2 separate regions of the Homo sapiens genome follow, and region 1 is linked to region 2. Evidence: fine-mapped expression QTL. A gene starts in region 2. The other region holds a variant in brackets. All regions are shown on one strand. Distances are between the middles of the regions. Region 1 overlaps FNBP1 (formin binding protein 1). Region 2 holds the start of USP20 (ubiquitin specific peptidase 20).

Region 1 (2,901 bases), 52 kb after region 2:
CCTTGGGACACAGAGAAGTGTGGGCACAAACCAATCCTATCTTCCCCCAAAAGGCCAGGGTGAAATTTTCAAAGCTGGCTGTGGAAACGGGGCCTCCCACTGCACATGTCCAGCCAGTGCCAGGCACAAGGCTGCTGCCCTTTCGAGTTGTCCACGTGAAACAGCTCCGCACTGCCTGCAGCTTCACAGAAACTAGTGATTCCAGCCACGCCACCAGGAGTACCGGCTTGAGCACTGGTGATACCAGATAAATAATGAAACTCAGGTGTGCCCTCATTTCACCACCTCCTCCTGCCCCAGCCCCAAGCAATGAGGTCCCCAAAGAGCTAGAGCAGCAACCAGTTGAATGTGCATGCAAAAAATACTCCTGGCCATAAGCAGCCTCTCGCAATCCTCGCACTACATCAGCCCGAATTCCACGTCACCACGGTCTGAGAGCCTCCCCCTCCACCGTGGATGGGGGTGGAACTGAGAGCTATCTAGGTCTCCAGCTCCTCCCAGGGGCCAGCTCCCCAGCCCAGGGGGCTTCCAATGACACCAGGCTGCTTCCACAACTAGGGTCATATCTTCATGCAACAAAACAGTCCCGTGACACGGAGCCACAAGTTATATTTTATTTTAACACGAGATTAACATATAGTTACAAGGTCAATACAAGCCTCCAGTGGAAGCTCTTTATTTGGTTTAATTCCATCTCCAGAGACAAACAGGCAACTCTAGGACCTTTACAGTGGCGATCGGCCTCACACAGCAAAATGCCTCCAAAGTTTAGAATTAGTGCAACACACATACGAACATTTTAAAGGTGCTCAACATCAGGTTAAAATAGAATTCTGGACCTTTTTAAAAAGTTTTTGGATGATATAAGCACAGGAGGCAGAGCCAATAAGAAACATGAAACCAATATTTCTGGAAAAACACTTAGCATGAACGTCACTTTTTGACGTCGTGTAAACTTTCTTCTGCAATGACGGATGTTACCAAAAGGCATCGAGACCTTTGCGCTGCGCTGGTTAGACAAGCCGCAGGCTTATCTCCACGGTGAGCAGGATAAAAACCCCCAAGGAACAGCCCATGACAACCTTCTGTGCCTTTTTATACTTTCCCATCCTACAAAGGAAAAACTGGGTAAAGGACAAGTTCCTCCCTTTCACTGCGTTTCTAAGAACTTTTCAGGGCAGGTTCTTTTAAAATTAGTCATCTTACAACACAACAGTATTCTAGCACGGTGGCGAAGTGACAGGCGGCAGATACGGGGGAGGAAGGAGACGTTCACGGGAAATTCCACATTCTACTCTATGTGAACTGCTCCAGAAAAATACAGACATGATTTCACAGTAGGATTCCCAGAGTAAATGATGATACATAGGACAACTGACCTCCTCTAAGAAGCCCGGCTGGGGCAGCAGTGAGCTTTTCATGGAGCCACGCAGACTGGCCCGGAAGCAACACCCAGGTTCAACATTTAAGAGCACTCGCTATAACATTCTTTTTGGACGCAGGTGGTGGAAAAGTTTAAAAAACAGGCGGAGGAGTGACGGGGGGATACAAGCATATCCTATACTGGGGGTGACGGTCATTCAAAGAGCAAATTACTGCAGCTTATATCTTTTCCACTATGTTGCAAGAAATGAATCTATCCTGACCCATAATATGAAAGATGTGACGCACATGCATTCCCGAGGCTCTAAAATCCCATTTTAAAGAACCGTTTCAC[A/C]TCCTCGTGGAGTGGAGAGTGGTCCACTTGACTTGGTGAGGTCAGAAGTTCCTGAAGATCCCTGTCGTCCCCGTTGGCGGGGGAGCCCATTGTGGAGCTGTGGGGACTGCCACACTCACCATGCACCTGTTGGTTTGCAGGGACAGAGGTGCGGCCCTGACTCTTCTCACCCTGTGTCATCCGGGCTTGTCTTTCGTCTGTCAAGTCAGTCCTCCTGCGTGACTGATGGGTGCACCACGCTTAGGTCACCCGTTGCAGGGACCGGAAGTCCATGGCTCTGCCGCAACCCTGAGCGGTTTGCAGTCCCCCCCGGGGAAGAAGCAGTCAGAGAGGCTCACGCTCACCTACTTTAAAAACCCAAAGCCACTTCCTCTTCACCTGCCTGGGCCTCAGCGTCTCTGCGCTTGTGGTTTCTCGTCCCCGAGGGCTGACTGAGCTGCTCCGGAAGGGTGGTGTGTGGTCAACCTTGGTTGGCTGAGAGGAGCAATTTCCTGGTTTCCACAAGTAAAGACAGCCCCATCCCTTGGGACCTGTCCTTTCCGTCCCTGTCCCTTTGGCTTCTATAGGACTTCCTTGTCTTAGATTCATAAACAGCAAGAGGAACTGAGGATGCTTGAGGGGACCACCTAGTTACCAAAGCCAAGCAAAGAATAAAGCTGCCCGACGTCATCCCCAGGCTTCCGTGGCGCTCTCGGTCACAGGAGCTCTAGGCCAATGGTTCCTCTTGACTGTTTCTGCACCAAATGAGAGGAGGGGCTGCTCTGCTCTAAGGCGTGGCGGGGGGGGGGGGTGGTGGCCACAGATTAGGGGACCTCAGGTTTTCCTCAAAAACCCACACAGGGAAAGAAACTTGGCTCTAAAAGCAAACTCAACGAATTCCACATGCCCTGAAGAGCACGTGATAAAATACAAGGGTGGTGGCGGCGGGATCCCTCAAAGGACCACGAGAGGCACGGGGTCTTTGGTGATGAAAGTGCTAACCTCGGCGGGGTGCGGTAGCTCACACCTGTAATCTCAGCACTTTGGGAGGCTGAGGCGGGCGGATCACCTGAGGTCAGGAGTTTGAGACCAGCCTGACCAACACGGTGAAACCCTGTCTCTACTAAAAATACAAACATTAGCCGGGCGTGGTGGTGCACGCCTGTAATCACAGCTATTTGGGAGGCTGAGGCAGGAGAATCGCT
Region 2 (2,901 bases):
TGTCATAATGAGTTGAAAAGAACAGGGAATAAAAGTACATAGAAAGTTGTTCACAATCTGAGAGAGAGAGACGAAAAAAAACAGATTGGAAAGAGTATTCAATATTAATACCAGTGCATTCTTGGGTGGCTCTGCAAGGAAAAAAAATGTTAACACTGATCATTTCCGGATGGGAGAATTATGGGTGCTTTTTATCGTCTTGACTATACTTTTCTAAATTATACAAACTCTTAACGATCGATATGCATTTCACAATTAATTGGTTTTAATAAAAAACGCGAGTTAGTGATCTGTTTCTGTATCTCTGGAGCACACCCCGAGACGACACAGCTCAGGGCATGTCCTGGTTAAACATTTGCAAAGAACGCTGTTCTCCAAGTTGGGCAGTGGAAGGTGTACAGTGTGTCAAGAGAAAAATCTACGTCTGAGGAGATATTTGTGACAGCGACCCGGACGCGGATGTGTCTGTCGTCCCCGCCGCCTCCTCCTCCTCCCCGCGTGGTACCCACCTCACCCCGTTGGGCCTCTTCCTCAAGTTCTGTACCTCTCTGGTCTCTTCCAGTTTTAATCTTTAAAAAGAAGAAGAAGCAGCAATGCATAAGCTGAGTGATTCCCCGCGGAATCCAAAGCTAACAGAGCCAATAAGGCACCTTCGAGGGCATCCCAGCCCAGCTACTGAGCCACCAGCACAGTGGTCCAGAGGACGACCTTGTGCCTAGACCCACCGGGAGTCAGAGCCACTGCGCATCCCGGAGGCATCTCTCTCAACCGTTCGAGCTTGGGGCGGTGGCCTCACCCCTTGAGCCTCAATTTCTGCGTCCGCAGAAGGAACCACCACCCGAGCTCACAGTTAACAATGTCAGCGAAGCGCCGAGCCGGTGGTGAGTCCCCCAAACAAGTCTATCTTTACCAAGCCTATGGGAGCCCCGCCCCAAACGCACCGAACCTCCTCTGAGTCCTGCTCATCTTCCTCTGACTCCGAGTCGCCCCGGCGGCGACGGAAAATCTTCCGGACGACCGGCATGGTGACAACGGCCGAGTTGTACAGCCGCCGCGCCTCTGCGCAGCGGCCCAGGCTGCTTCCGGCGCGCGGCAGAGCGGTCAGAGCGCCTGCCCCGTCTGGCCCCGCCCCCGGCACGCACAGTCCGCGTGGCCACGCCCCCTCTCCTGGCGTCAGCCTCTTCCGATTGGACGGCAGAGGGAAGGAGGTGGGGCGTCGCCAGACGGCCCCACAACCCTGCGCGTCGCCTCAGAGGGGGCGCGCTTGACTGACAGGCGGCGGCGGCGCAGTTGCGAGTGCAGGTGAGTTCCGGGCCGCCACCGGCTGCTTCTGTGGGCCGGGCCTCTGAGCATTGGCGACCCCAGCCCGGCTCCGGGCTGACAGGGCCTGGCTTCGCCAGGTACGCCAGACGCAGCGGCCCGGTGAGCGGAGCCCGGGACCCCCCCGGCCGCCGCCGCCCCTCTCCCCTCCTCCGGTCGGCGCCCAGGGGGGCCTCTGGGCCCCAGCACCACCCCACTCTGAGCTCCCTGGGGGCTCGTGGCTTCTCCAGAACCGGGGCCGCCCCCCTCTCATTTCTGCCGGGGCCTGACCTAGCGTTGAAAGCATCCGCGTGGCGTCTCGCGTCTCGGGCGCTGACTTTTCTTTCCTCGGGCTCTGAGCCCTGACGTGCGTTTTTTTCTTTCGGAACAAAAGATGACCACTTCTCTGCGGTGCTGACTTAGAGTCCCAGCGCCGACTGCCTCACAAATAATGGCCCCCAGCTTCTCCGCGAGGAGAGGCGCGTCTGATGTTTTGAAGCCACGCAAGAGGGTTTGAGCCGGGGGACTCCTCCTCGGTGCTTGCCGGCCACCCCCCTGGACCTTCACGGGTCTGGTTTTCCTCCTTCGGCAGGTCTGTCGCTCTACCCTCTGCCCCTTCCACCCCGAAGATGCTGTGAGGATAAAGTTTATTTGAAAAACTGGTATCAGCAAACGCTTAGGAAATACCTAAATGCATAAATAATGGCTTCTAGGACTTTTAAGAACCCCTTAAGTAACAGTAGTTTTCCTTTTCTCAGTGTCATCCCTTACTTTGAGAACTACCTCTTATTAAGCAGTTACTATGTGGCAGGCCCTGGGCAAAGCATCATCTCATTGAATTCTCCCAGCAATCCTTTGAGGTAGATTGTTTTTCGTTTTACAAATGAGAATGCGGAGTCTCCGAGGGGCAGTGCACGCCTCAAGTTACCCAGCTAGGAGGTGGAACAGGAATTGGTTGCAGGTCAGTCTCTGCCGCACGGTTTGCACAGGGCCTGGCACGGTAGGAGTGCAGTAGATGTTTGCTGCTGCTGCAGCTGCTGTTACATCTCATTGGCTAGGGGGAGGGGCCGATGGGGGCTGTCTGGGGTTCCCCTTTCTGGAAGACCATTCCGAAGCAGGGCAGCATTTCTAGAATGCCTTACGTTTTCTCTGGAACAGTCTCCACTGAGATTGTTCTTCTCTTCCTTGGGCTGGAAAAAATAGTAGACTCGGGACTTCTTGCACCAGCGTTTTATCTTTGGTCAAAAGCCATATATTAAAGTCTCAAAGTCTTGCCCTCTGCAGACTGGTTCAGCCAAACCCAGATGCACGTGCACTCACTGGATACGGAGTCCCTGTCAGATGATGGAGAGGCTCCTTGGGAATTGCTGCAGGAGTCCAGGGGGTCAACGTCTGCAGCTCTCACGCTCTCAGAGGTGGCTCTGAATCTGCCCATCAAGCAGCCCATCCACCAGGGGGTACTGGACACTACTAAGGAAAGGGCAAGAAGGCCAGGGGCATTTCTGGACCCTCCTCCTCAGCTGAAGTCCCAGGGTACAGATGAGCTGCTCCCACCCTTGCTCCATGAGGCCAGAGGACCCAGTGATAACCACCACCTGTGCT

Evidence for each region. PIP is the estimated chance that this variant, and not a neighbour inherited with it, causes the effect.
Region 1: its variant is fine-mapped to the expression of USP20 in whole blood (TOPMed, PIP 0.92).

The regions. Positions count from the first base shown.
Region 1 is chr9:129,886,587-129,889,487 of GRCh38, forward strand. FNBP1 (formin binding protein 1) reads right to left here. Exons shown (of 17, transcript NM_015033.3): 17 at 601-2,901. Among named protein-coding and RNA genes, the nearest start is that of MIR6855, 18 kb to the left of the region's middle. RefSeq lists enhancers at 1,610-2,009, 2,340-2,429, 2,384-2,901. The variant A/C (reference allele first, on the strand shown) is at 1,718.
Region 2 is chr9:129,834,198-129,837,098 of GRCh38, forward strand. It overlaps USP20 (ubiquitin specific peptidase 20), which reads left to right and starts at 1,261. Exons shown (of 26, transcript NM_001110303.4): 1 at 1,261-1,302. C9orf78 (chromosome 9 open reading frame 78) reads right to left here and starts at 1,078. Exons shown (of 9, transcript NM_016520.3): 1 at 942-1,078; 2 at 510-569. The coding sequence starts at 1,024. RefSeq lists silencers at 1,010-1,359, 1,390-1,539 and an enhancer at 1,511-2,011.